2 separate regions of the Homo sapiens genome follow, and region 2 is linked to region 1. The links come from fine-mapping of genetic effects on gene expression. A gene starts in region 1. The other region holds a variant in brackets. All regions are shown on one strand. Distances are from middle to middle. Region 1 holds the start of SCGB3A2 (secretoglobin family 3A member 2). Region 2 holds the start of C5orf46 (chromosome 5 open reading frame 46).

Region 1 (15,464 bases):
AGGAAGATGGTTCTCTTGGAAGCTGTCACAGATGTGTATCAACTGGGTGAAGGAAGGTTCCTAAGGAAGGGAGACATGTGCTGAGATCTCAAAAGAGAAATAATAAAGTGGTTGAATAGGACAAAATTCATAAGGCAATGAAGGAGAAGAGGCATTTATAGTTGAGTGAATGGCATTTGCAAAAGCCCTGTGCTAGGTATACTGTTCTCTAGCCATGAAGAAACGTCAAGGTGGCTGGAAAGCAAATAAGAAGGAAGAAAGTAAGTCTTACAGGACCTCATAGGTTATGGTCAGGATTTTATTCTTAAATCCAAGAACAATGGAAAGCCACCAAAGGATTTTGAGCATTGGAACACATATGATCATTGTTGCATTTTAAAAATATCAGTTGGCTGTTGTGCAGGCTAGACAGAGGGGTCCAGAGTAAAGCAAGAAGCCAGCCAAAAGCTCTTGAGCAAGGGAGGGTCAATGCAGACAGAACCATGTGGAAGGATTCAAGAGAATATTAAGACATTAGGTTGACAGGACATGGTGATTAGTTCTACATGACGTGTCAGGGAGAGGGAAGTATCAGGAATGACTCGTAGGAGTCTGACTAATGCAAGTGGATATGGTTGCATATGCAGTGTTGCCACTCAGGTATATGGAGAACATTGGATACAAAATTTCCCAAGGCTTTTCTGGGCTCTTAGGATAAATACAGGGCCATGACCATGACACCTAATGCATGGTTTGACCTTGGCTTGTGTCCCTGTGCTCCTGCTGCCACCTGTGCACTGAAACACAGGTGATGTTTCAGTTCTTTGAAGAAGCCAAGTTCTCCTTATCCTCAGGATATTCATGCACTTAGTACCTTCCACACAGAATATTATTTGGTTAAGATGGGTTCTTCCAACCTCAAGTCCCAACTTGGCATGTCCATAGAAATGACCTAAAATAAACAGGCAATCTCTTGTCACTGTGACCTTTCTTAGGATCCTATTCTTTTCCTTTATTGTTATTATCATAACTTATAATTATCCTTTTACCCATGTTTATTTGTGTGGTTTCTATCTCTCCCTTTACACTGTGAAATCTATGGAGATATGGGTCATGACAATTTATTACTGTATGCTTCCTGTCCAGCAAAGATCCTGCAACTAATATTCAATAATTATTTGCTGAATCGAAAATATATGGAGGAAACAATGAATGACCAATAGCTATCACTGTTATTATGGTCATTGTCAGTATCAGAAAACAAGTTCTCATTTGATAATGAGAGAGTTAAGGACAGAACAAAGAATGCACCATTTAACAATGCTTGAAATGAAGTCAGAGGTAGTTACTAGAAAGGGGGAGCATCAGGTAGTTGCCATTTAGTTGTGAATCCCCAGTGAAAAATTTAATGCAATAGAAGGTGCTGATATTTCTCATTATCTACCTTGCATATATACACAAATGTTTTCCTTGATTTTGCTAATAATGAGCGCCCTCTGCTGTCTTTAATCTGCCTCAATAGCCTGCGAGCTCTTCATCTGGTTGCTTTCTAAAATAAAAAATAATGTAGCAAATAAATTGTACTTACCTGTCTGGTTGTACTGCCTATCTTAGACATGAAACTAAGAAATCATATAATTCATACCTTGCATGGCTTGACCCTCCAGCACATAATAAAAAGGGATTTACAGCTAGCTTAGGGAGAACAATCATACCCTAGGCATTGTCTTGGGTCCCTAATCCCATCTTTGGAAATGGCACTTCTCCGACCTCAGTCACCTGAGATACCAACTGTTCTTCCCCATTGAAATGTGTGACTAGTTATCAAAATTTTAGACACCATGTAATTCTGGACCTTGCATTTCCACTTTCAAGGTTTTTCTGAAGACATAAAGACAAAAATGTATGCAAAATATGCATGCTCACTATAGCACTTTTTATAATAACAAAAAATATAATTAGATATTAGAAACAATATAATATACATTATATAAATTAAATTAATATTCACATAGATAACAATTTAAATAAGGCATATGTCATTCATATGTGCAATGTATCATTCATGTATGTTTGTAAATATTTAGAAAATGTCTTGAAAAAAGCACATCAATGTGAACAGTGGTTTCCTCTAATTTGTGGAATTTATGGATGAAGAGAATGAAAGTTACATATATGCATATATGTAACTACAGTTATACATAATTATAGTTGTATATAATTATATATAACATGTTAATTATATTCCATATGATTATATGATAATTATATGTATATATTTCTATATTCTGATGATCTTTAAAATAATTTTTAAACTTTTTAAGATAACTATAGATTCACATGAAGTTTTAAGAAATCATACAGAGCAATCCAGCATATTTTCTACCAAGTTTCCTCCAATGGTAGTATCTTGCAAAACTATGCTGCTACATCAAAACCAGTATGCTGACATTGATACAGGTAAAACACAGAATATTTCTGTCCTCATAAGGATCTCTCATACAGCTCTTATATAACACACTCACTTCCTTCCTGCCCCCATCGTCTCCTTAACCCCTGGAAATTACAAATTTGTTCTTTATTTCTATAATTTTGTCATTTTGAGAATGTTACATAAATAAAAGTATACAAAATTTAACCTTTGGGGTTTGACATTTTTTCACTCAGCATAATTCTCTAAGGATGCATCCAGGTTACTGTGTATATAAATAGTTTGTTCTCCTTTTTTGTTGAATAGTATTTCTTTACAAAGATGTCCAAAATTTATCCATTCATCCACTGAAGAACAACTGTGTTGTTTCCAGTTTTTGGCTACTAAAATAAAATTGTTATGACCATTTGTGTACAGGTTTTTGCATAAATATAAGTTTTTGTTTCTCTGGGATAAATGCCCAAGAGTACAATTGCTGGGTTTTATGGTAGTTGCATGTTTAGTTTTTTAACAAAATGTCAAACTATTTTACCAGAGTAGCTGTACTGTTTTACTTTCACACCAGCAATGTGTGAGTGATCCAGCTTGTCTACATCCTCACCAGCATTTGGTGTTGTCACTTTTATGATAATGTTTATCATCAGTTTCTGCCTGCCTTCCCAAACATAATTTGTCCCCAGATTCCTTCTTAATCCCTCTGTTTGATACACCCCTGGAAAAAAAACCTTCCAACCCAGTAAACTGTCAGATTACTGCTATTACTCAGAGTACAATGGCAGAGAACTTTATCCCCAATCTTTTCCATTTAATACCTTAGTGAAGACATAGAGAGGCATCCTTCTCAAATATGCAAAACACTGGGAGAGAGAGAGCAATGAAAGGCTTAATAATATGACTAGTGGAACAAAACAAAGGGGCCAACCCAATCAGATACAACTTAACAGAAACAATCCCATTTATTCAACAGAACCAACACCGACTATCTTCAGGCTCTGTGCGATGTGCTGAGGATACAGACATGTACATTAGAGTCACTAACCATTTAACTTGACAGTCTAGAAAAGAGACTTTGAAATAAGTATGAAAACAAATACGTTTAAACTTATATTATTAATGTGTCTATTGATTTAACATAGTGTCTGACTCTTTTTTTTTCAATCAGCATTAAAAAACTATGGATGAATTTGAAGTTGGGGAATAATTCCTGTATTTTAGGAAGTCTCCTTCTGTGTATGGATGATGGATTAGAAGGGGACCTTTGGGAATACAAAAGTCACTTGAGAGATTAACACAGTAGTTTGAAGGGAAATGACAAGATCTGCAGCTGGGAACAGTGGCTCATGCCTCTAATCCCAGCACTCTGGGAAGCTGAGGCAGGAGGATCGCTTGTGCCCAGGAGTTCAAGACTAGCCTGGGCAACATGGTATCTAAAAAAATACAAAAAACATTAGCCAGGCATGATGGTATGTGCCTATAGTCCTAGCTACTCAGGAGGCTGAGGTGGGAGGATCACCTGAACCCAGGAGGTCCAGGCTGCAGTGAGCTGTGATGGCACTATAGCACTTCAAAAAAAGAAAAGAAAGAAAGAAAGAAGAGAGAGAGAGAGAGAAAGAAAGAAAAAAGAAAGAAGAAAGAAAGAAAGTAAGTTTTAGGAACAGTACCAGTGGTGATCATGAAAAATGTGTGCAATAGTTGTGAAAAGGGTTGATAAGGCTTGCTTACCAATCAGAAAGGAGGCTGATGACAGAGAGTACTTAGGATTATTCCCAAGTTTCTGTCTCAGGCAACCACTAAAATGTCTGTGCTGTAAACTGAATAGCAAATTAAAACATAGGAGTGGGTTTTGAAAGAGAGACAATGAGTTCAGGTAAAAATGTTTGAGTTGAACCTAAAAAAGAGCATCCCTTGGAGGTGTCTTATAGGTAACTAAATCTCTTCTTTAAAAAAAAAAAAAAGGTATAGATTGTAGCCATAGATTTTAGAGTTCCTAACATAAAGATTATATTGGCGTCCATGGTAGTACATAAGATTCTCCAATAAAGGTTATACACAGAGTAAAAATAGAAGGGGAATCAAGTTTAGTATCTTTGGAGGTATCAATGTCCAAGGGAAGTCAAAAATAATAAGGGCCATTTAAAGAAACTGAAAAATAGTGGTCAAATAGCAGAAAACTAAGGTAGGCGGAAAGATGGCATGTAATTCAATAGAAAAGAAAATTGCAAGTATGAGAGTCATCTAAGGTGACAATTACTTTGAAGTCATCAAGTAATGTGGTCAATTACATTACATTAATCATATTTGGCACTGCTCTTTCCTATAGGATAATTATACATCCCCTTCCTAAAGAAGTCAAACATGGTCAAATGACTTGCTCTGGCCAATTAAACATGATTGGAAGTCATATACTTCACTTTTAAGAAGAAGCTTTAAGAGTTAGCTCATTGTTCACCAAGTTCTCTTTCCCTGTAAACATAAGCAAAATGCACAAGAGAGACTATTCCATCAGCTCCTGTATAGAATTCATAAAACATTGATCATAGCTACAGCCAACCAAAGATGGCCACATACTGTGAGGAACAAGTGACACACTGTGCACGTAAGCCACTGAGATTTGGGATTATTTATTACTGCAGCTGGGCAACCTAATCTATCATTATAGGCATAGGTAAAATAAGGAAATAAAGTAGGAAATTTCACAGAGTGAAAGCTATTTTAGTTGCCAAAAAATGGAAGTCAAGCAATGGAAGGAAATTAAGATAATATCCCTAGAGATAACATTTAACATCATCTTAGTCAGAAACCAATTAAGAAACAGAAACTACTCAAAGTACTTACAACAGAAGGAATGTAATGCAAAGAATTGATTGAATAGACATTAGAAGAGCTAAAAGTCAAGTAGGTGATGGTAAGGCACCCAGAAACTGACAACAGGAGGAAACCACTAACTTCAGCTGGAGAGAAAAAGAAAGGAGGTGGTGTAACCAGAGCCCAGAGGCTGGACTCACCCAGCAAAAGCTGGGACCAAGGCAGGCCTATCTAGCAGGACCTGGAGCTCAGACGTGGTACAGTCATTTCCAGAGACTTCTCCCTAATACAGAGCCAGAAAGGGTCATACAATAGTTTTCCTCTTTTCCTACTTCCTATCTACTGCCTGCGCCTCCCAGGGGCAGAACCTAGCCCAAATGTCAGCTGATTTGGGAACCTGAGAAATGCAAGCTGCAGCAATCAGTATCATGTTTCCTGTCCTGCCTCAACACACAGCAGAGCAGAGCAGAGCAGAACAGGGGAAGTGGAGGAAATGGACCTGACAGCAAACAGTCCAAAGACTGACACAGGCCAGGTCTGAAGGTCGATGGTGGCAGACATTCTAGGTAGGAAGAAACTTGATTTTTCATTAAGGTGTAAGAGTGTTAGAGGGAAAAGGATTTAGTTATCTGTTCAGTGTGGCTGGAGTAGAGCGCATGTGAAGAAAGGAATGTAGATAAGAAGACTAGACGTGTAACCAAAAGCCAGATCATGAACAGCCTTGCATGCCATGCTCAGAAGCTTGAAATCTGCTCTACAGGCCGTCATGATATTACCAGAATAATTCCTTGGAAAGATAATTCTGTCATCACTGTAGATGACAGAGTAAAGGAAAGAAAAGATAGTTCATCACCCATTTGCCTAAGGATGATGTAGTAAAGGCCTAACTTGGTGGAAGGATTGGTGAAAGCTATTGAGTGGCCATAGCTTAACTACAAACTTAAGAACTAGCATTCTAGTGAAACAGAAGCCAAACCAATGAAGTTAGTAAGATGCTAGTCTTATCAGACAATATTTTGAAAATTATTTTTTCATTTTTTAAATGTAAAAATTTATTTAGGATGGGGGATAGGAAAGTGAAGGGTCTGAAAACACCGTGAGATAAAACATTTGGGAAAAATAGAGATGTTTAAATTAGAGATAAGGAAAGGAGAAGGAATGATTATGTCTTACTTAAGATTCCAGGTTTTCTTTATAAAAACAGGCTCTCTCGAGTTTATGAACCAAGGGAAAACTAATCTGGATACGTCCTTCTGAATAGAGTCCCCAGAAATAAAAATAGGACGACTGAAAATGTATTCATTGCTTTATTTGTCCTTTTCACGGGTCACTACATTTTAGGGCATTTGATCTATAATTGGTAGAACAGGTTTCAGGCAGGGAGGATAGGAGCATCATCTTCCATCCCCATCCACCTCCGCTCTTTATCTTGATGTCACACCAAGTGTGATAGCGCCTCCTGAAATGTAGAAGGACAACAAAATTTAGAGCAGCTTACATGTAATTCGCATGTTTCAAAACATATTCACTTCCAGTGTCCTGTTTGGCCACTATTTTACTGATGGGGAAACAAAAACTCAGAGTGATTACGTCTCATCCAAAATCACGAAGGTGGTAAATGGTATTGTCACAACTATAACACATGTCACTATCATTCAAAAACCCTTCCCAGAAATGTAGAAATTGTATTTTTCCTGAGATTCCAGGATGTGCAAACTTCCTATGAATATAATCAGTAAAGTGGAAATGCACATTTACAAGGGACAAGAAGAGGAGCTAGACATTCAGGGTGAGTATGCCTCCCCTTTGGCAGATTAGCCTCCCAAGCTGTGGTTACCAGCAGTTTCTTCACAGCTTCAGAAGCCTCTGGTCCCAGCTCATTTACACACTTCCTTAGCCCCTCCACAAGGTGCTCAACAGAAATGCCCAGAGTTTTCAGAAGAAGCTTTAATGGATCCATAAAGGGAAGAATGTTGTCCAGAGGTAAAGGTGCCAACTTGTCAACAGGAAGGGGCACTTTGTTGATGAGGAAGGCAGTAGCTGCAGGAAAAAGAGAAACCAGGTGAGACAGGCACATCTGGGCCCAGACTATGACCTCATCTTCTTTCCCTGTGTCCATCAATAGCTCCATTCCAGATCCACTCATCTTACTTCCATTGAAAACTTCTACCTCTGGCCCTTTGCACCTGCTGTTCCATCTCCCTAGAACTTTTTTTCCTTAGCTAGCTACTTACCTTTCTTTCTCACATTATTTGGTCTCTCTTCAAATATTACCTCCTCGGAGAAGCCTGCAATGGCCATAGTCACTCTCCGTCATTTATTTTTTCTTACCATTACCTAAAAAAAGCAACTCTTCATTTGCTGTTTTTATTGTCTTTATTTTCTCATTAGAATGGAGGCTCCATGAGAACAAGGAATGTGTGTTTTTTCGCTAATGCACCCATGCCTACAACTGACCCTGGCAGCGTAAGCATTCAACAGATCATTGTGATTGTCTGAAGGCGATGGTATTTTGTATGTGACTGTCTCCACAGCTCACAGCTTTGAGGCTAAAGGAGAGATGCTATAGTGAATCTCCACATAAAGACAGGAATGGACCCAACCACAGCCCAAGAAACTGCTCCCAACCAATTCAACTCAACGCTACAAACATAATTGAGCACCAACTCTATCTAGTCTGTGCAGATACATAGACAAATAAGACAAGGATGCCCATTCAGAGACTTCACACAGTCCAGTTGGTGATAGAAGATCTGTGTATGCCACAGTGTAGCATGTGCTATGCTAACATTATGGACAAAGCTCCATGGAAACACAAGAAAGGGATGACTAATTCTAACATGAAAGAGTGCTGCAGGAATTTTCCAGAAGTGCTGTTAGAGCTATGTCTTGAGGCAAATGTCAGGATCATAAGGTAAAGAAGAGGAGAAGCATTTTAGAAACATGACCAATAAAGGCACGGAACCATTAGGATAAAAGTGCATACACAGGATGGTGAGCCTTCTGCCCAGAAGGCTGGAGTGCAGATTTCCAATAGGCTATGACCAAAGGATGGAAGATAAAGGGAGTGAGGCTGCAAAAGTTGAGTGAGGTCAGATTTTTTAAAGTGTTGGATGTCACACAAAGGAGTTTGGATTTTTTTTTCCTGAGGGCAGTGGGGCGCTATCAAGGCTTTTACATAGGAAAATTACGTTTTATATCTTTGGCTTTAGGAAGATAACTTTCCCGTAGAAGATGAATGGTGGGAAAAAGTAGAGATTGAGGAAAATATGTACGATGTATTTTTTACAAAAACATGTGCAGATATATAAATGCACACATGCATGTGAGCACACACGTAAGAACACACATCCTCCTACTGGCTAAGACCTGCCATAGTTTATTTTCCTTTGGAAACCTATTATTTCCCCATTCAAATTATTAAAATGGAGCCTGTATATATTTTTTTAAATTTTCAATCACCTATTGTCCCTCCAAAATTCTCACCCAGAGGGGGCGGTATTTATTTTCCCCACCTCCTTTCTGCTGCCACTTTGCCCATAGATACCTGTCCCTGGACATTAGAGAACAGTGAAATATCCAAAACTGGTGAAGTTACAAATTCCTTCAGAAATTCAATAAACATCAAAAGCCAAAGTTGCCATTGTAGGTGTGGGCGGCAATCAATTTTTCATTATTAATCTCCATACTTCTTATTTCAGACATTTTGGTAAATATCTTCTCTGTATGTGTTTACAGCTTCCTGGGAGAAGATCTTCAAAGCCTTCTGTTCTCTCAATGAGCAGTGGCTATCATGAAATCTCTTTTTCCCATGTGCCCACACTGTCTTCCTGATAGTTACAATGATTCCTTCCAAAAAAATAAATCAGTTCCCATTCTCCTCCAAGAAGCCAGCTTCTATACCCTTACCTGAAAATTAAACTAATCACCCACCAATACACTAAAAGAGTTCTATCTGGATATCTCACAGTACGTTTACAGTAGTCTAGAATTATAGTAACTTAGGCAGAAGCCCTATCTATCCTACCAGAGTAGCACCTTAAGAACAATATTTATGACTGCTTCATGTCTAAATCTTCCAATGCCTATCCAGTGCCCAACAAATTGTAGCCATTCAATAAATATCCATTGAGTGGATAAACAGATGAATGTAGCTATCTCAGGAGAACCAAGCTAGCAAATTGGATAACTGGAGATGATAGCAAGAATGACTCCATATAGTTCAAAAGCACAAAAGAAATTATAAAGTCAAATTTTAACTCAAAATTGAGGAAAATAAGAAAAACGAATGGTGACCAATATCCAGCAGTGAAATGTGCTTTGTTGACCCTCCGTGGAAGTTGGCTAACTTCCTATGTAGGATGTATTAGAATACTTATATTGGGCTAGAGCTTAGATGGTGGGGATCTGAAATACTTTCCAACATCACCATTTTCTGTGATTCCAAAACTTCTTCCAACCCTGCAAATATGTGCAATTATTATGTGTCAGTTAAAAGTAAAATAAAAAAAAATACAATTCCTACCACCATATTCCACTGTCAGTGAGGCAAGGCTTACTAGTTGTGCTCTTATTAACAGAAAAGTAAAGAAATGTCACATATTCCAGATGTATTCCAGTTACTTACCAGAGTAACTACAAAGGCTGATGGTCACCAGCAGGAAGATAGTTACCAGCTTCATGACAGTTATCTGGGATATTTTTCAGGAGTTTAAAAATCAGAAAAATCTAGCAAAATCCACCAAGCCAGTGGTTCCACTTGCCATACAAAGTGTGATGGCTGCTTTTGCACACACATATTTATATGCCCATTGAGGACCTGAATTCTAGTCCCTACCACTTGACTCACCCCACCAAAGAAAGGGATAAATGTTATGTTTTCTCACCAAACAATTTGGAGGGTTTTCCACTTCCCCGTGTGTTCCCATGAGAAACAAAGCTCTACAGTACAGCATTCTCAAGTACCTCTTGCATAAACCCTTGCACAGAAATAAAAGCAGAAGGCAAAGAGCCCAACGAATCCTTCTCCTGGAAGAACATTGAAAAGAAGTGAAGAATTTATATTTGGATTAGAAGGAGTGTTTTCCTCTGGTTTTCTACATTTTTCCCCAGTTTTCTAATCATTTAAAGTTTGGAGAATCACATTAGCTGATGAACTACCCAGTTGTGAAAGCAATCTGGAGGCCACTCTGGTATAATACAGAGTCAGCTTCATGACATTTAGTGCCACATTTCTCTGGAATTCACCTGCCCCCAGCCCACTCACACATCTACTATGGTAAGATTTTCACACCTCTGTTACCTTTTCCAGTGTCAGTTACTTTGAGTATGTTCAGAGCATGTCTTCTCTGAGCCTTTGGATAGAATAATAGGCTTAAGATCTAAAATCAGAGTGTCTTTTGAAAAACCTGGGATTCAATTTTCACTGTTTGTGTAATCTTGGATTTGACATTTTTAATCTAGGATATTGGTCCTCTCATCTAAAATGGGAACATAAATAACACAACCAACCATAAGGTGTGTAGCTTGGGGAAAAAATTGTTTTTGCAAGATTCTTTGGCAATCAAATCCGATAAAATCATTCAAAAATACGTAATTGTAAGGTACTGGCTACAGGAGTAGTAATTTGTTTCCAAGGCTGTCTTTCTGGATCCAGGGTTCAGCCACAGGACCTCAGGACAACTTCATTTGTGAGCAGAAGTCCTGGAGTTCTTTGGGGCATCGAGTGGGCCCGACATGCAAGGAAGAGGGTAAGAAAGAACCATGAAGGGGTGAAATAGAAAGCGGAGTCCATATGGGCACAGGACCAGCTCAGGGCTCCCCGGCCACGTGGTACTGCTGGCTCCAGCCATTCCCACCACCAAAGTGGAACCCAGAAAATTTTGAGAAAACACACCTTAAGATGTAAGGCCAGAGGTTGGGGCTTTATTTGTCCTCATCTGAGGGTGTGGTATTGTAATGAAGATCTAATAAAATTATGCAGACAGAGCATTCTGCTATGCCAAACCAAAATTAATATCTAATTTATGTCACATTTTACTAATTTTTATGTTACCATGTTGTAACTGTCATTTCTTTATCTTTCTGCTACTTTATAAACTACTTTATAAACTACATGAAAGACACCATGAATGCCTGCCATGCACCTCAATCCTGCCACTTCTCCTTCTTTCTCTACCAGTACTGCTTCCATTTCTCCCACATATTCCCACTGATGCCAGTGATATTAATATACCAAGCCCCTCAAAGAGCCAAGGTTGGTGGTAAGATTGATGCCGTTGCCGGAGGAACAGGGTCCAGCTGCTTGCTCTCGTGGTCCAATGATGAGATACAGGTGAACTGGGAAAGAAGCGAGTTTATTTTTGTAACCAGCCACAGGGAGAAGGTCGGAGTAATTTACCAGACCAACTAAAAGTTATGAGTTTTTCCTTTAGTATATATAAATGAATTTCAAGCTCTATGCCTATATGCAGGAGTATTTCTACTTAGCCTAAATCTAATCTTTAACTAGTGGTCTGTGGGCTGGAAAGTTTCTTAATTTTACATGGGTCCTGGTATGGTTTGTATGTGCATGAATGCTTTTATCACTCAATCAGGTTTGAGGATGAGAAAGCCCAGGTAGGGTCTTAACGGGTTTGTTTCTGCATTCCAGGTCTCCTACTCAGGCACCAGTTTCTCTAGTTCTTCAATGTTTAACTTACACATTCATCATTACAGCAAAGGGCTTATGGAGACTTGGTTGCTTGTGGAGATCCAGCCTGCCACAATGACGCCCTTTAGTTTTTTATTATGGTCTCTTTTGGAATACTAAACCAGTGCTGCCCTCAAATTTGTTTGCTTGCTTTTAAATCCTTTCTCTTCACTTTCATTCCTGGCTCTGTATTATAGAAAGTTGACTTTTTAAAATGTGGTTTCCAGGCTTCCTTGCTTCCAGGCTTCCTTGCCAACTGCATCTGATTAAGTTAAGCCAGGGGAAGGCACAGGTGAAAGAGTGGAGAGAGAGAGAAAAGGAGAAGGGATATGTCTCCCTCTCTCCAATTCAGGAGCTATCATGGGTAGTGGCTGCACCCTCTCCAAGGCTCATCTCCTTTTGGAAAGGTCCTTTATCTGTGGTTCCCCCTGTGCCACACAGGCCAACATTGTTCCAGCTTTTACTGCATGGCCCCAGCTCCTAGACCCCACCTTCTCATCACTGTCCTTCCTGACCTAGAAGGAGTAACAACTTTCTGCATTTTCTAATCTCAGAGTTGATTCATCTTCTGCTTGGTTGCTTTAACTGCATTTCTAGCACTTTGTAAATTACCCTACATGTTGAATTCTTTCTGTGTGGTCACTTGGTATGGTTTTAACTTTTTGGCTGGACTCTGACTGACACAGCATCCTAAAATATTGTAGCGCTTTCAATAAAAAATAGGTTTTCCAGTTTCTAAACTGACTTCTTATAAAAGCCAAGTTATAAATCCATGAGGGATAGGACCGAGGCCTCCTCAGGTGAAATATAGCATTATACATGCAGAAATGCTTCTCTCTTTTAACCTCTGAAATGATTGGTACTGTATCAGGCTTCTCTGCTGGTCCTAGAGGGCAAGTTCTTTCCAGGAGATTCCTGAGACCCCTGGGCAAATAGATTTCTGTTGGGTCTATCTAGTAGTCAGCCAGCCATGCAGTCTTGACTGGAATGTACATGAAAAACATCAACTCAAAAGCACCCACAAATATCCACATACATATACATATATGAATAGTAGTATGTATGTGTGTGTACATGCAAATCATATTATGCATACACAGATAACCATCAAACACTATTGTTTTCACTCATTTGTTCAACAAATGTTTATTGAGTATCCATTGTGTCTCAGGCACTGTGTCAGCAATTAGGACTAGTGCAGAAAACCAGACAAGCAAATTTCTTGCCTTCCTGGAGCTGACAATGTAGTGAGATACACAGGCAAGAAACATGTAAACAAACAGAAAACACTAGTGGTTAGTGCTGTTGAAGAAGCAAATAGAAAGCTGTGAAAGACAACAAGTGGATTGGGGGTATGCTCAGAATTGAAAACATACTTGGACTTGTTCACTTCTGGGCTTCCTATGTTTTGAGCCACTGTATTAATCATGTCTTTTAATTCTGTATTTTTAACGTTTTGACCCCTTGGGGCCTTGCTGACCTTGAAAGGACTGCCCTTCCCAGGACTAGCTAATTCCTAGAGATATCACCAGGAGCATGCCTTTCATATGCAAATTAACCAATCCAGAGCCCAAAGCCCCAACGACCTTTATTGGGCTTGTGCACTGTGGGCCATTATTCCCATGCCTTAATCACCCCATGACCAACTAGGGACAGCCCCAAGATCCCAGAGCCCACCAAAATTATTCACACTAGCCCATTTAAAACCTGCTTACCCCATCTCTCCTGTCTTCCTTCAGAAACCACAATAAAGACTCCTGCTCACATTTTCCTCCACTCCATCTGTCTCTTGAATAACCCTGGTGCTTCCCGTGTGCCTCCAGCCCCATGGTGTGTCATGGCCCCTTGTATTGGGATCTGAGCACACTAAAATCTCTTTTCAACAGCAGTCAACTCCTGATCTGTTCACAAGAAGAATAGAATCTACATTTTAAAACAGCCATGTAGCCTTTTCTTGTGCCTTTGTTATGGTATTGTTACTGTAACCACTCAATAGATTCACCTTGCCTGCTGCCTAGACAGAGCCAATGTATGAAGACAGGGGAATTGCAATAGAGACAGAGTTATTCACTTAGAGCTGGCTGTGGAGGAGACTGGAGTTTTATTATTACTGAAATCAGTCTCCTCCGGCATTCAAGGATCAGAGTTTTTAAGGATAACTTGGTGGGTGAGGGGCCAGTGAGTCAGGAGTGCTGATTGGTTAGGTTGGAGATGAAACCAGAGTTGAAGCTGCCCTGTTGCACTGAGTCAACTCCTGGGTGGGGCTACTGTCAGGCCTCTGAGCCCAAGCCAAGCCATCGTATCCCCTGTGACTTGCACGTATAAGCCCAGATGGCCTGAAGTAACTGAAGAATCACAAAAGAAGTGAATATGCCCTGCCCCACCTTAACTGATGACATTCCACCACAAAAGAAGTGTAAATGGCCAGTCCTTGCCTTAAGTGATGACATTACCTTGTGAAATTCCTTCTCTTGACTCATCCTGGCTCAAAAAGCACCCACTGAGCACCTTGCCACCCCCACTCCTACCCGCCAGAGAACAAACTCCCTTTAACTGTAATTTTCCTTTACCTACCCAAATCCTATAAAACGGCCCCACCCTTATCTCCCTTCGCTGACTCTCTTTTCGGACTCAGCCCGCCTGCACCCAGGTGAAATAAACAGCCATGTTGCTCACACAAAGCCTGTTTGGTGGTCTCTTCACACGGACGCGCATGAAATTTGGTGCCATGACTCGGATCGGGGGACCTCCCTTAGGAGATCAATCCCCTGTCCTCCTGCTCTTTGCTCCGTGAGAAAGATCCACCTACCATCTCAGGTCCTCAGACCAACCAGCCCAAGAAACATCTCACCAATTTCAAATCCGGTAAGCGGCCTCTTTTTACTCTCTTCTCCAACCTCCCTCACTATCCCTCAACCTCTTTCTCCTTTCAATCTTGGCGCCACACTTCAGTCTCTCCCTTATCTTAATTTCAATTCCTTTCATTTTCTGGTAGAGACAAAAGAGACATGTTTTATCCGTGAACCCAAAACTCCGGCACCGGTCACCGACTGGGAAGGCAGCCTTCCCTTGGTGTTTAATCATTGCAGGGACGCCTCTCTGATTTTACACTCACGTTTCAAGGGTGTCAGACCACGCAGGGACGCCTGCCTTGGTCCTTCACCCTTAGCGGCAAGTCCCGCTTTCCTGGGGCAGGGGCAAGTACCCCTCAACCCCTTCTCCTTCACCCTTAGCGGCAAGTCCCAGTTTCCTAGGGGGCAAGAACCCCCAATCGCTTATTTCCACACCCCAACCTCTTATCTCTGTGCCCCAATCCCTTATTTCCATGCCCCTACCCCTTCTCTGCTTTTCTGGAGGGCAAGAACCACCCCCCTGCAACCCCTCCTCCGTGTCTCTACTCTTTTCTCTGGGCTTGCCTCCTTCACTATAGGTAAGCTTCCACCTTCCATTCCTCCTCCTTCTCCCTTAGCCTGTGTTCTCAAAAATTTAAAACCTCTTCAACTCATACCTGACCTAAAACCTAAATGTCTTATTTTCTTCTGCAATGCCGCTTGACCC
Region 2 (15,464 bases), 25 kb before region 1:
GACTTTAGATTGTTACTGCAAGAGTCAAGACGAAGCCCCAAACTGTGACTCTTATTGTGGACGTGAAAGAAGTTGATAAATTTTAAGGATATTTAAGAGGAAAATTGATAGCACTTTGTGAGAAAATCGGTTCTGTGATAATAAAAGGTAAAGAAAATTCACATTTCTAACATAATTTGATGCATGGCAATGTCCTTATCTGAAATTCTAATTAGGGAACAGGAAGAGAGAAAAAATTCCTAGCTAAGAGTTTAAATACTTAATGATTTTTTACTCTCCACTCCCAAACATTCTGTTCCTTCTCTCTTCTCTTTCCCCTCCATTTTTTTCCTTCCAACATGCTCATTAATTAAAACAAATTTTGAGATTAAGTTATTTCACTTCAATCTTCACTTCTAATAACACTGAAGAATTTGAGGTTCATTCCTAGAAATATGCAATGCTCTTCCATGCTTCTGTGTCTTCACAGATGTCATTCCTCCTACCTGAGGTGTCTTCTCCACACCTTGGTTGCATAGTAAACACCTACACAATCACTTTTCAAGGCCCAAACAATGATTTGTCTGTGACCCCCTCCCGCAGGCAACGTTAACCACTCCCTGTTAGTCTTCTATAGGAATCTGTTCACAACTCCATTAGCATTTCTCATATTTAAATTGCAATTATTTGGTTACGTGTTTGCCTCCTCAACAAAGGTAGGTCAGGGACTGTTGTTTTGTATTTTCTTGTCCCCAGTGTCTGGCAGAGTACCTGGCAAATAGTATAAGCTCAATAAATAAATGTTCACTGAAAAAGTAACTGTTAAATGGATCTATGGCATGAAGATTGACTAATGTATAAGCTACATAGAGGAAGGTGATTAGGGTAACAAAGAGTGTGACCACTCCTTAGCATGTAGACACCATGGGAATGGCACCCCTAGCTGAAGCCACATGCATCCCTTCCAAGACTAGTCTGAAACTTTAGCTGGAATGAACCAAGAACAAGAGAGGGTTTTATGATTTCTTTATGAGGCTTTCAAGGAGGAAACATATTCCAGATGTGATGTTAAAGAGGAACTAGAGCCCTTTAATGACTTCTAGTTTCCTCATTTGATTTCAACTTCTCACATACTATTCTTTAATCCTTTATGTAACCTCTCTCAGTCCTATTCTGCACTCCCTGATCACGGGTTTTTTAATAAGAGAAGAATTATGAGGGCTTCTCCAGGTAGATTCACAAATAAAAGTACCAGATGCCCGGTTACATTTAAATTTCAGCTAAAAATGTAAGAAAAAATTAATTTCAGCTAAACAACAAATAATTTTTTAGTATAAGAATTCCTGTGAAATATTTGGTATATATTTATCCTAAAAAATTCCTCATTGTTATCTGAAATTCACATTTAATTGGGCATCATGTATTTTATCCTACAGCCCTATCTCCAGTCCTATTTCTGCCGAGGATAAAAAAGACACCGTGTAAACTGCATGTTTGCTATATCAAACTGAGCAAAAATATAGTGAATGAAATAGGCCAGAACTTTATTCAGAGGCTAATGAAAAAAAGCAGAGTTGGCACAGATGAATCTGTGGGCAAACAGGTTGGTAACATGGTGTTCCTCGCTTGGCCCAGGCATTTTGCCAGTAGCAACCATGAGCATATGCCAGTGCAACTTAACAGAATAGCTGAAAGCAGGAACATTGGAATCACACGTTCGTGTGTCCAATTCCCTGCTCTGGCTCGTATATAATTTGTAACCTTGGGAAAACTCCTCTAAGCTTAAATTTCCTTGTATAAAATGAGGAAATGGTAGCCTCTCAACAATTGTATTGATACATTGTATCTAATTCAGCACCTGACCAGAGGAGGCAGCCTATTATTATTATTATTAGTGGTGGTGGTGGTGGTGGTGGTGGTGGTGGTGGTGGTGGTGGTGGTGGTCCTAAAATGTCTCTCTCCCTCCTCTAAGACAACTCAATGTAGAATAGAATAGAATAGAATAGAATAGAATAGAATAGAATAGAATAGAATAGAATAGAATAGAATAGACAAGTTTATTATTTATTTTTCACTTAGTATTTGCAAGGCACTGTGCTAGTTTTACAAATTTTCTTATCTAATCTTTATAACAACACCAAGAGGTATCATTATTCCTATTTTATGGACACTGGATCCAAAGCACAGAGAAATTAAAAATATCTTAAGGTTACAGTGTCACACAGCTCGTAAGGGGCAAATCTGAAATTCAAACTCAGTTCTGTGTGATCCCAAAACCTGTGCTTTTAACACTAATGCATACATTGAAATCTCTCCATGAGATTGCCAACCCAAATTGTAATTCTTTTCTACCTTGAGAAAAAAAACCACTCAGATGATTTTTAATTAAGTCTGGAAAAGTCTGTAGGAATTAAAACATTTCTTATTTCCTTCATTCCTATACCTTCTTCCCAAGCTAGAATAGTGTTGTAGAAGAAGGTTCTCTTTTTCTTCCCAGCTTGGATAAAACCCTCTTTCATAATCTCAGTTTCTCATCTAACCTAAAGCAAATTCACTTGTTTATGGCAATGGAAGATAAATCACAGCTTTTTAACTGTTATTTATACGGCCAACATTAAGGGCTCTTTACAGTTATCAGGTGTTTCATTTTTATCTCCTATATTCTTACAATGGTGCTGATATATAGGCAGAAATTTATATTATGTCCCTTTACAGATGTAGAAACTGAGACCCACAGGGTACCTGTCATTTGCCAGAGTCACACAGATAATAACCAAAAGAACCTGGTTCCTCTTCTCAGAATTGTTTATTAGCTCATTGATTCAATGCATATTTGTTGGGTATCTTTTACAAACAAAGCACTATCCTAGACAGCAAAGCCATCTCCCTGAACAAGACTGATCAGAATGCTTCCCTTTGAGATGTTAACATTCCTTGGAAAGAGAGACATTAAATCATCAAAAATTAAGTGCTGAGAAGAAAGAATACAGAGTGTAGAAAACTTAATCACATAGGGATCTGAATTGGATTAGAGAGTCATAGAAGTTTTCACCAAAGACAAGACATTTTAGCTGAGACCTGAAGCTATGAGGAACAAACCAAGAGGAGAGAAAGAATAAGAACAAGAAGCAGGGAAAACGGAGGGTATTGAATCAGGACCATGCAATGAGCTAGTGTTACTGACAGGAATCGAGGCCAGCTATCCTGACACTCAGGACAGTGCTAGCTTTTTGACACCAGACCTCCAAAAGCAGCTGATTTAGGATTTGTCTGCTTGCCCTGTCCAGCTGCTATTCCTAAGAAGCCAGCAAATTTCTGTCTTAAGTTGCTGTATCTACAGCCTGCTCTTATCTATAGAGTGCCCTTGTGATGATTAGAAAAATATGTACCCTTTCCCAGGCAAACACAGCAATGTGTCAGGATCCATGGCCTAACTGATAGAGGACACTTGAATGTCATTCCCCTACTAGCCTCTTGGACAATCACAGTGCTCAGTCATCAGTAGTGACCCTGATGACATAAATCTACCTCAATGAAGGCCTTTTAATGTCTAGATTTTATTAGAGACTCTGGCCTTGTCTGTCCTATACAAACAGTGGTGATCTAGAGTCTAGAGTCTAGATTCAACCCTTTGTGCAAGAGAGACAAGACCAGTGTTTTCCTGAGAAGATACGTTGGGAAGGCCTTGGAAGGCCACACCACACAAGGTGCAACAGAGCTGCCTGATTATGTTCCAGAAGTGGTTTGGTGCCTTGTGAAGAGTATAACTAGTAAGTAAGAAACATTGCCCTAGCCTTGGCTCTGAGATGCTGGATGAACCTCCTTTTGTCCATACTTTAGTTAACTTTCCCATTTATAAAATGGTATTTTGACACATGCAAAGTATAAGTATTGGTAAATCAATAAGTTTAGGTATTCCCAAGTCCACATTCCAATTAAATGAATTTATAGCATTCCTCAGGATAACCAATATCATCTAGACTTGAACCAAACTTTATTCTCTTGCGTGTATTGCAAAGGGAGATTATTTTACATCTGAAATACATAGCAGCATCTCAAATCCAACATTCTGTTTCACCAAGTGCAAATATATTTAATCCAGTTAATTATTTCTTTTAAAAAAAAAAAGATGGTAAGGTAGACTTTATTCAAGGGGAACCATGGTGATGGGTATGGGTATAGAGACCAAGGCAATGGAGTCTGGCAGTCGGGGAGAAAGACTGGTCTTAATCAATTCCCAGATTATTTTTTCTTCTGCTGCTGTTTTTTTGTTTTGTTTTGTTTTGTTTTGTTTTGTGTGTGTGTGTGTATGTATGTGTTTTGGTATTTGCCATGTGCCTCAGTTAATATGTATTCAACTCTAAAAAAGATAGTTTTGCCTTCGAGAAGCCTACAGCCTATTGGTAAAGACATTTAAAAAGGACCTAGCAGGTACATCAGAGGATCATCTATCTCTATTTGGAAAAACCGGAACAAACTTTCAGAGGAGGTGAAGTCAAAGGTGAGACCAAGACCAGGCAATAGAGTAGGCTCCATGAGGATTCAGCAGTAATAAAACATTCTTCTCTTGAGACCTACAGGCTAGGAATCAACCTAAGTGTCCATCAACAGGTGAATAGAAAAAGAAACCATGATATGTATACACTGGAATACTATTTACTATAGAGCCTTAAAAAAGAAGGAAATTCTATCATTTGCAACACAGTTGAACCTGGAGGACATGATGTTACATGAAATAAACCAGGCACTGAAAGACAAAGAAAGACAAATACATACCACATGATCTCATTTACATGCAGACTCTAAACAAGATGAACTCACAGAGGCAAAGAGTAGAATGATAGTTACCAGAGACCGGGAGTTGGGTAGTGGGAGGGATTGGGGAGATGTTGGTCAAAAGATATAAAATTTGAGCTAAATAGGAGGAATGAGTTTGAGACATCTATTTTACATCATGGTGGCTATAGTTAATAACATTGTATTGTATACTTGAAAATTGCTAAGAGAGCAGATTTTAAGTGTTCTCGCCACACAAAAAAAGATAAGTATGAGTAGTCTGGGTATTAAATAGCCAGATATAGCCTTTGCACAATATATGCATATTTCAAAACATCATATTGTGCACCACGAATATGTACAATATTTTGCCAATAAACAAATAAGTGGATCCACAAGCTGAAAGAGAAGAGAGCTGTTAAAACACTTAGTTCTCCTATGAGAACACATGGGCACATTCAGGGGAGCAACACACACTGGGGTCTGTCAGGGTTTCAAGGGGAAAGAGAGCATCAGGAAGAATAGCTAATGGATGCTGGGCTTAATACCTAGGTGCCAGCCAGGCACGGTAGCTCACGCCTGTAATCCCAACACTTGGGAAGGCTGAGGCGGGCAGATCACGAGGTCAGGAGATTGAGATGATCCTGGCCAACATAGTGAAACCCTGTCTCTACTAAAAATACAAAACTTAGCTGGGCATGGTGGCACATGCCTGTAGTCCCAGCTACTAGGGAGGCTGAGGCAGGAGAATCACTTGAACCAGGGAGTCGGAGGTTGCAGTGAACTGAGATCGCGCCACTGCACTCCAGCCTGGCAACAGAGCGAGACTCAGTCTCAAAAAAAAAAAAAAAAAAAAAGAAAGAAAGAAACCTAGGTGACAGGTTGATCTGTGCAGCAAATCATCATCATGGCACATGTTTCCCTATGTAACAAACCTGCACATCCTGCTGGCTACATGTGTAGCCTGGAACTTCAAATAAAAGTTGATGGAAAAAAAAGAGAAAAATAAAAGTAAAATAAATAAGACAGTTTATGTTGTCGTTTTCTGTTTGTTTTGAGACAGAGTCTCACTCTGTCACCCAGGCTGGAGTGCAGTGGTGTGATCTCCGCTCACTGCAATCTCCGCCTCCCAGGGTTCAAGCGATTCTCCTGCCTCAGCCTCCCAAGTAGTTGGGATTACAGGTATCTGCCACTACGACCAGCTAATTTTTTGTATTTTTAGTAGAGACGGGGTTTCACCATGTTGGCCAGGATGGTCTTGAACTCCTGACTTCGTGATTCGCCCACCTCAGCCTCCCAAAGTGCTTGGATTATAGGTGTGAGCCACCGCGCCCAGCCAACACTTAGTTCTTATACAATGGGGTCAAGTGTGCTATAGGGCAGATGATGAAGTAACAAACTGCCTGGAGAAGGGTGGAGTGGTTATCATGAAGGTATCACAAAGAAGGACCATTTGAACTGAGGAATACGTAGGAGTGATCCGAAGGGAGACAAGGAGGAGGGTATCTGAGGAAGAAGGAAGAGCAAGAGCAGACGCATGGGGTGTGAAAGGGCATGCCCATGTGGGAACAAGGGATTGTCCCAGAGCACGAGGGAAGGCATAGAGTGTAAAGGGAGGGTGTAGGCTTGCCTTGCCAATCTGATTTGTTGCCTGCTGCTTGGCACTGACGAGCAATTCTACCTGATATCCCTTTAATTATCAATGCTGGCCTTGAAACTAGCCTCAAGAGATTCACTCCAGAACCCTTTATAGATACAAATTTTAAAAATCAAGAGGGTTTTTCTTTCCCTATATGTAAAATGTTTGGTTTGAATGATAGGGTATGTCTCATTAGTACAGATCCAAAAGCAAGCTGTGCAGACATCTTGTGCAACAATCTAAATTCCAAAGCAGATGATGTCACCTATCTATGCCCTATAAATGGAGCATTGTTTCACATGTATCTGAACAATTTATCTGCACGAATACCCCGTGCTACCAGAATGGCTGTCTCAGTACTTCGCCTGACAGTTGTCCTGGGACTGCTTGTCTTATTCCTGACCTGCTATGCAGGTAAGTGCTTCTGATCACAGCCCATGAATTGTTCAGTAGTTAGCAGTGACTAGAGAAAGCTGATGGCACTGATTCAGAACATAAAAGAAAGAAGGGGTCTTTGGGCACTCCAGAAAGAGCACTGGCCTGGGAGACAAGAGGTGTATCTTCTAACACAAAGAAAGTAGAATTTTAATAAAAACCTAGCCTCTATTTTCAGTGGATGTATGAAGTTTGAAATTTTTTTATGTGCTCTTATGATATAATGACACTATTCTAGTATAAATTCCATGGGAGCTGACTGGCATTTATTTTTTGATAATTATTCCTAATAATGTTCATTGGTGAAGAATATGTACTCTGGAATAAAACTCCTGTACCTGGCTCTACCACTAACCAGAAATGTGACTTTAGGAATGCTATTCAATCTCTCTAGGCCTCACATATAAATGGGGACATTTAACTTTCTCGTAAAGTTATCATGAAAATTAAATAAAAGGAATGAAACAAATTGGAAGGGTACCTGGTTGATAGTAAGCATGCAATAAATACTACCTGCTATTGTTGTCATGTATAATCTCATTTGGTTCTCATAGTAATCCAATGATGTAAACATGTACAGTTTTATCATTTTCCTTTTTGCAGGTTAATAAACAGGTTGCAGAGGGCAAGTTACTTGAGCATACATACAGGTGAAAGTGGCATCTGGGAGTGAAACCTAGGTTCCTAGATTCTTTCTACTATTATCGAGCAACTATTTCTTTCCCACCTTTTCCAAGCACATAGAAGCTCATGCTGTATGCTGCCTTCTCATTAATTAATTTACTGTTTGTCTGCAAAAGTCTGTGAGCTCCATTCAGAATGATAGACCAGAAAACAGAGGGAGTGCAAACATTTAGTGACAGAATCCTTTGAATGTAACTTGGCTGAAGAACACACAGACAGACATTACAACAGAATTACTCTAGACATGGCCACGGATATTATTCAGTCCATTCTACTCCTAAAGAAATCACTACAGTGAAGTGAAAGGAGAGATTTGATACCAAGACCAGGCACCACCCTGTCTCTTATAAACTCTGAAACTGGTTAAATCGTTCACTGCTTTGAACCTCAGTTTCTTTATCTGTAAAACGGGATAACTATCAACTTCACCAGGTCAAATGAATATGCTTTTTAATTACTTTGTAAACTATTAAAACTCTACAAATATCAGCAATACTGTTTATTAAGAACATTATATTCACATTCACTAAGAAACTCAACAAAGTAGTTACTGTAAATAAAGGCTATCCCATATAATACTTGAAAAAAGAAAATATTAAACTATTGACTTTGAAGATTGTTTCTAGGATATCAATCGTTTAATATTTTAATAGCATTTTTAAAATTTATATTATCTTCTAAAGCACTAGAGGAGAAAGTGAATTATAAATCATTTTGCTGCTATTATTATTAATAGTAACAATAAAACAGATAACATTTATTTATTCATTCTTTCATTTATTATTTATTTATATAAGGTAAGTTTATCTTGGGATTGGTACTACGATAAGTGGTATATATATGATATATGTATGTATATATAATATAGATATATGTATGTGTGTGTATATATATATAGATATATAATATATAAAATATCTTTCAATCCTGACAACATATGAGGAAACTGAGAGATGCAAAGTTAAGCACTGTGTGCAAGTTTACATGGCTAATTTTTTGTTAAAGGCAGGAATCAGACAGATCTATAAAACTCCAGAGCATGCAATCCATCACACTTTAATACCTCTCAATATATATGGGGTTCACAAGCTAAGGCCAAGATTTTGATTTCCGCCCACTCCAATCCCAGGCTTCTTGCATCTTGAAAAGCCAGGTTTTAGTGTCATATTAAAATAACAAGTCAATAGAATTTATTATGCAAGTAGCCAGATAGAAACACAGGAGAAAAAATCTCATCTTTCATGCAAGAAATTACTGCTTTGCATTTGGCAAATGTCTTTACAGAACAATTGTTTGGAGGTTGTATTATACAATGTGAATAATGTGCTTTGTGGAGTTAAAAAAAATTAGGTTCAAACCCTGGGTCAGCCACTTTCTAGATGAGTGATTTCAGGTGAGTCATTTAATTTTCCTGAGCATCTGTCTTCTCTGCTGTAACTGTGATACCACTGCTGAGCTAAATGACGATTAAGGCATGTGCTGAAAGCACTGATGGAGTACCTGCACGATAGGCACCTTACACATGAGTTCCGCTTCCGCCTCCTTCCCACAATAAAAACAAACCAATCCTTCTGAGTACCTGGGTTGCCCAGCACTTTATGTGAAGGTCATATCTACAGTTGTCTTTTTTTTTTTTTACCTTGACTCTTAGCATAACTATGCACATAATAGTAGGCTCAGGCCAGGCAGGATGGCTCACACCTGTGACCCCAGCACTTCAGGAGGCCGACGTGGGCAGATCACTCAAGCCCAGGAGTTCGAGACCAGCCTGGGCAATATGGCGAAACCCCGTCTCTACACAAAATACAAGAATTAGCCAGCTGTGGTGGCATATGCCTGTCGTCCCTGCTACTCAGGAGGCTGAGGTGGGAGGATGTCTTGAGCCCAGGACGTTGAGCCTGCAGTGAGCTGTAATCACTTCACTGCCCTTCAGCCTGGACGAGAGAGTGAAGCCCTGTTTCAAAAATAAAACATTAAAAAAGTAGGCCCAAAAATACTTTTTGAATGAAGGAACCAATCATTGGATATATGAATAGGTGATGATTAGTATATTGATTTTGGTTATATGTCCCAAACTGGTGCTTCTATCAAATCTTTAGTTGTGTCATAGTAAACAATAAATGCTCATAGAATTGCCTGCCAATCTTTTTTACTAATAGTTTCCATTTTAGGATATAATATAGATGTAAAGTTTCTGACATAATTTGGCAGCCTCCACACAAAAGGTAGTTACATCTCCTTTATCCAAAGTCAGGGGTACATTGTCTAGAAGTTGGGACTTCTTGAGTTAAAACTTGTGCTGAGGTTGCTAGATAAACTACGAGAAACACAGTTAGATTTGGATTTCTGATATGCAATGAATAATCTTTCAGCATCAGGGTGTCCTAATTATTGCATGGATCTTTTTTATAGTACCAGAAAAGCATTTGTTGTTTATCTGAAATTTAAATTTAACTAGGCATCCTGTATTTTTATGTACCCAGTCTGGTAACATTACTTGTCAGGGTACAATACAATTAAAAAATAAAGGTCCCACTTTATCCTGTGACCAGGGCTCAGAGGGGCGACCACATGTAGCTACTGTCACTCTTCCATCTCTTCTCATCTCCTGGGAATAAAGACAATCAAGCAAAGTCAAAAAGCCCCCAAGGGACCTTGAATATAATCAACCTCACTCTGGATCCTTGGCCCTCATTCCAATGGGCCCTTAAGAATCTAGTGTTAAGAGGCCTGCAGTTATCATCTTAGCATTTTTCTTACTGTCTATGAGGTCTTCTGTAAGCCTCTTAATCCTTTCACTTTTCAGTTCAGTGAGCTAAAAAATGCATACTCTGTAAGATTGCTCAGGGGATAAAATTACAC[A/T]ACATTTGTAAAATCACTATTTATGAAACTACTAGGTGATATGCAAGGGATAGAATTGCTTTGTCATCATTATTGTTATACTATTTTGAATCTTCTAAAAGAAGTGCAAATTGCATAACTTTTCCATCAAAGACTGTGCAGCTCATCATAGAGTACTTTAGAATCCAAATTTTAATGCCAAACTGACATGGGTTTGAATTGTATTTCTGCCACTTACTAACTATGTGACTTTCAACCAGTTTCTAAACATCTCTCAAATTATATTACTTTACCTTTAAATTGGGATAATTGTTCCTACCTTGTAGAATTGCTATGAGGATAAAATAAGACAATCCATGTAGATCGTCATAGGCATGTATTCAACAAATGTTACCCATTGATATTTCATTTTTATTTATTTATTTTATTTCTCAGAGACAGGGTCTCACTTTGTCACCCAGGCTTGGAGTGCAGTGGAACGATCATGGCTCACTACAGCCCCTATCTTCTGGGCTCAAGAGATCCTCCTGCCTCAGCCTCCCAAGTAGCTGGGATTACAGGTGTGCACCATCACACCTGGCTACTTTTTACTTTTTGTAGAGATGGAAGTCTCACTATGTTACCCAGGCTGGTCTCAAACTTCTGGCCTCAAGCAATTCTCCCATCTCACCCTCCCAAAGTGCTGGGATTACAGGCATGAGCCACCTCACCCAGTTGATAATTTATCTTTAATATTATTATTACCATGGGCATGGAGATCATATGGAAAAACAGACATTCTGTATGTCAGTCCTGGCACTGGCACTTACTGGCTGCTTAACTCTGAGATAAGTACTTAGCTTCTGGGAACTTTGGTTTTCTCACTCACCAGGCGGTGCCAGTGTCTACCTAAGTATCAATATCAGTCGGTCTATTTGTTTGTTTTTACAAATAAATGAGACAATGCATGTGAAGATTTTATCCAGACAGGCATTAAATGTTCGATGAATATAACCATATAAGGCTATGAAATTTGTGAGTGGGTCAGAAAGAATCCCAAGCGTTCCCCACACAGAAAGAATGATTCCTTCTTTGTTGCTGAGAATCACCTCTGAGATTCTGTTGTTTTTCAGACGACAAACCAGACAAGCCAGACGACAAGCCAGACGACTCGGGCAAAGACCCAAAGCCAGACTTCCCCAAATTCCTAAGCCTCCTGGGCACAGAGATCATTGAGAATGCAGTCGAGTTCATCCTCCGCTCCATGTCCAGGAGCACGTAAGCACTGAGAAAAACGTTGCTTTTTGTCCAATTCTCTGTTGATAATGACCACACAATGACCTCATGGCATTAAAATACATGAGAAACAAAATTTGTGGCATAAGTAAATGTGTTATTTTTCATTGAAAAATGTTGCCCTACTTAAAATATATTTTGCATCTGAATCAACTGCCCTGAGCTTTTTGGGGGAAAGGACATTCCCATCAAGTGGTTCCATACAGGATTTTTTTTTTTTTTTCTTTTTAATCTCAGGAGCAAATAGGGAGGAGGAAGAACACTAGACTAAGGAACAAAAAGCCAAGTTCTGATCCTAACTCAGTTGCTATTTTACTAGGTGGTCTTGAACAAGGCCCTCCCACTCTGAAGGCCTCTATTTGCTCATATTTTAACTGTGAAGTTAAAATAATAGATGGCCCGCCCCTTGTAAGCACTGTGATTACGTGATGAAGGTAAGAGGTAGTGATATGTTCGTTAGTGATGGGTGTGAGGAGTCCTGCCTATATTTTCTAGCTTGAGTAGCTCAAGAAGGTTAGCAGAGACAGTAGATAACCTCTCTTTAAAGACAATCTAGAGAACCTCTCAACATGAGTGTTGGTTTTCATCATGAGAGACTGCCTTCGGGCAGATCACCAATCCCAGAGTCTTCCCAATGTTCTCAGCCTGCTTCCAAGCCTGTGTCTAATTCCCAATACATATTATTTTTGCCTACATAGTTTTGATTTGACACTACTACACTGTATGCTTTATTCTCCCCATATTAATCTCCCAAATTTCAGTTCTCCAAGATGAAATTCACTCTTCCAAATTTCCAGGTGCTTTCAATTTCCACTGCTCTAAGCCTCTGCTCTCTAATTTTCTCCCATATAGATCCTTAAGCAGAGTTTGACTAGGTGTGGTATACCCACCTGATACAGAATCCCTTGGGGGAATTTATTTTTAAAAATGCAGATTTCTGCATCCCATTTTGCATCTTTCTGGGGACAAGGCCATGGATATGGTTTTCAACAAGCTTTTCAGGTAATTCTGATATACAGAAATTTTCAAAAGCCATGCCTTGATCAGATGTTCTGGGTTGCATGGATGGGCCTTAAAGATCCACAAAACCTTTACATTTTTATTAATATTTTGTGTCAGTGTGATTTATTTATTTATTTATTTTTGCATTTTCCCGGGGAAAGTGTTCATGACTTCTATTAGATTTTCAAAGGGGTCTTTAACCAATAGCAGATTAAGAACCACTTCCATGTAGGAGTAATCAGGGGTTTTGTAATCTCTGATCTGCTTAAAGGGATAGATTGTCATCTGATTGGGCAGTGTTCTACAGGCAATCCTTCTCCACAAATTGTTAAAACTCACAGGTGCTTTTTTTTAATTGTTACATTTCCTACTGTGGTTGCTTTTGCAACTGTTATTTTTCCAAGACTGTTAATGTAAACAAGAAGGAAAGTCATAGGCCGACAATAGGAGCACCACCCATTACATACAAACTAAAGATTAGACTCCAGTTGAATTAGTATTGTTACATCCACACAGCAAAACAAGGAGTTAGAACACTAAGAGTTCTTTTCATTCCTTCCCTAGGGAATTTTCCAAGTATAAAATAGGACATTTTTCTCTGTGTTAACCATAAGAGTCGACTCTCTGATATGCTAAAGAATTGCTGTCCGCTCTAGGCTCAGAAATGGCCCTTCATCTACTGGTTTCCCTTTCCCTCATTACATTCTGAGTAAATGACCTTCTTTCTGTTGCTAGAAATTATTACCATCTCAGGCTCTCTTCCCTTGCTCTCCCTCCTTACTAAAATACTCTCCTTTTCTAATGACTAGTTCTTGAGCTTACAGCTAATCTAAAAGTCACTTCCTCAGAAACTATTCTATGACCATTCTTGTTAATACTGTCTTCTTCCATTCCCACTGCCTGTTATTCTCTATCACTTTACCTTGTTACAGTGTCATAATATTTGTTACCATCCGAAATGACTTATTTATTTTTAATCAAGTAGCTAAGTGAAAGTAGAGACCAAATCACCTGACTGGTTGCAAGAGCACAGTACATGGCATATAGTGTCAGGCACTTGAATTAATTAATTAAGGAAAGATATCTTGCAGATCAGACCTAAAGCCCATCTACCTCAATTTGACTGAGAAATCCTGAAGGATCTTTGCTCAAAGACACAGCAATATCTGCTCAAGAGATAAATCTGCGGGTGGTAGAGCCAGGATCTAAAACATACCCATAACTCCCTGCTCAAGGGAAGACCATAAGCAAAATAGGGGGTGGAGGATAGGAGGAGACGTCAGAAAGTATTGCTAAGCACTTAACATGTACAAAGCAGGGACACGGATTGTGAAGGAATAGTCTAGGCTCTTAATCCCTTCTCCTCAAATAATTTGCAGTCCTTATGGTAAAATTACTTAAGCCAATGCACAATGCCATAAATAAAAATGAGTAGCAAGATAAATGTCAGCCAAAGATCACAGGCAGTTTCCAGCGAAAGGAGTTCTCAATGGGTCCAGTGTGCTTAGGGAAGTGTTTATGGCAAAAGCAAGATGTAATTTGGGCCTTGAATGACTAAACAATATTTGATTTGGAAGAGAGAATGAGAGGAATAACAATGATTCATAAAGGTGGGAATTTTACTTTATTTACTCCAATATGTCTGATGCCTAAGTGGTGTGTCAGATGCATAGTAAATGCTAGAGACATGCATTTGAAACAATGAATAGACTGGATTGTTCTCTCCACTTGCTTTTGGATCAGCTTGGAGCTACCTAGACTGCATTTTGCTCATCATTTTTCTGAAAAATATACATATTCTTAACTCCTCTCACCCTTTGAGAGCCCTTAATTCTAGGGAATATTTTCCCCTCTGGGTTCCATGATGTATTTTCCTGGTTCTCTCTCTACCACTAGCCATTCTTTCTCATTCTTTTTATTTGACTTTTCTTCATGCACCTGCCCTCCAAATGTCATTGTTCCTCAGAATTCCAAACGTGCTTGGTTCTTCACATTGCAGTTTACACATTGGGAACACTGCCTATAATCTAATGAGTTTCAAATTCACATTTCTGTTGCAATTTTTTCCTGAGCTCCAGATGGAATAACTGATTGCTTGCTACAAAATTCCATCGTTTTTCTACCACTATTTCAAATTCCACTGGTCTAAACCCAAGCCCATCATCTCACTCAAAACCTTCCTCCATATCTCATTAAGTCACATCATCATCCACCCAGAATCCAGAAATCTAAGGATCTTCTCAAATCCTTCCTGCTCATCATCACCTTCATCGAATTGCTGAATATTCTACCCTATATACCTTCCTCGGGTATATGTATATGCACCCTATATACATTTCTCTTCCTCAGCTCCACTGACTAGTTGGTCAAGTTGAGTCCTTTATCATCTCTTTCCCAAGTTCCTTTTATTGGATTTCTAATAAGTTTCACTTTTCTCTGTCTCTCTTTTTATTGGATTTCTAATAAGTTCCACCTTCTGTCTCATCAATTCATCTTCTACCTACTACCAGAACTTTATATCAAAAAAATTTAAATTTGGTCATATCACTGCCATGCTTGAAAGTTTTTCATGAATTTCCATTGCCTCCAAAATTCAAGCAAATGCATTAGGCTGATGTCAAATGTCCTTCTCTGATGCCAATGTATCTTTCAGTCACATTTCTCACCTCTGCAACCTGAAGCCCCAATGACTAATGAGTTTCATTTTAAAGCAGGTCATGTTTGTATAAACCCCCAATATCTGTGCGTGTGATTTTTCCCTCTGCTGAAAATGCCTAGCCCCAAAGCCAAAACCCCACTCTGTTCACTTGGCAAGTCTAATCATTTTCTAAAG

Evidence for each region.
Region 2: its variant is fine-mapped to the expression of SCGB3A2 in whole blood (INTERVAL, PIP 0.99).

Annotation. Positions count from the first base shown.
Region 1 is chr5:147,873,237-147,888,700 of GRCh38, reverse strand. It overlaps SCGB3A2 (secretoglobin family 3A member 2), which reads right to left and starts at 9,990. Exons shown (of 3, transcript NM_054023.5): 1 at 9,843-9,990; 2 at 7,053-7,255; 3 at 6,510-6,674. The coding sequence starts at 9,897. The coding sequence ends at 6,651. It also overlaps a transcript of C5orf46 not described here. RefSeq lists enhancers at 13,158-13,823, 13,824-14,491, 14,492-15,157.
Region 2 is chr5:147,897,776-147,913,239 of GRCh38, reverse strand. C5orf46 (chromosome 5 open reading frame 46) reads left to right here and starts at 6,702. Exons shown (of 4, transcript NM_206966.3): 1 at 6,702-6,808; 2 at 11,467-11,611. The coding sequence starts at 6,739. The variant A/T (reference allele first, on the strand shown) is at 10,376.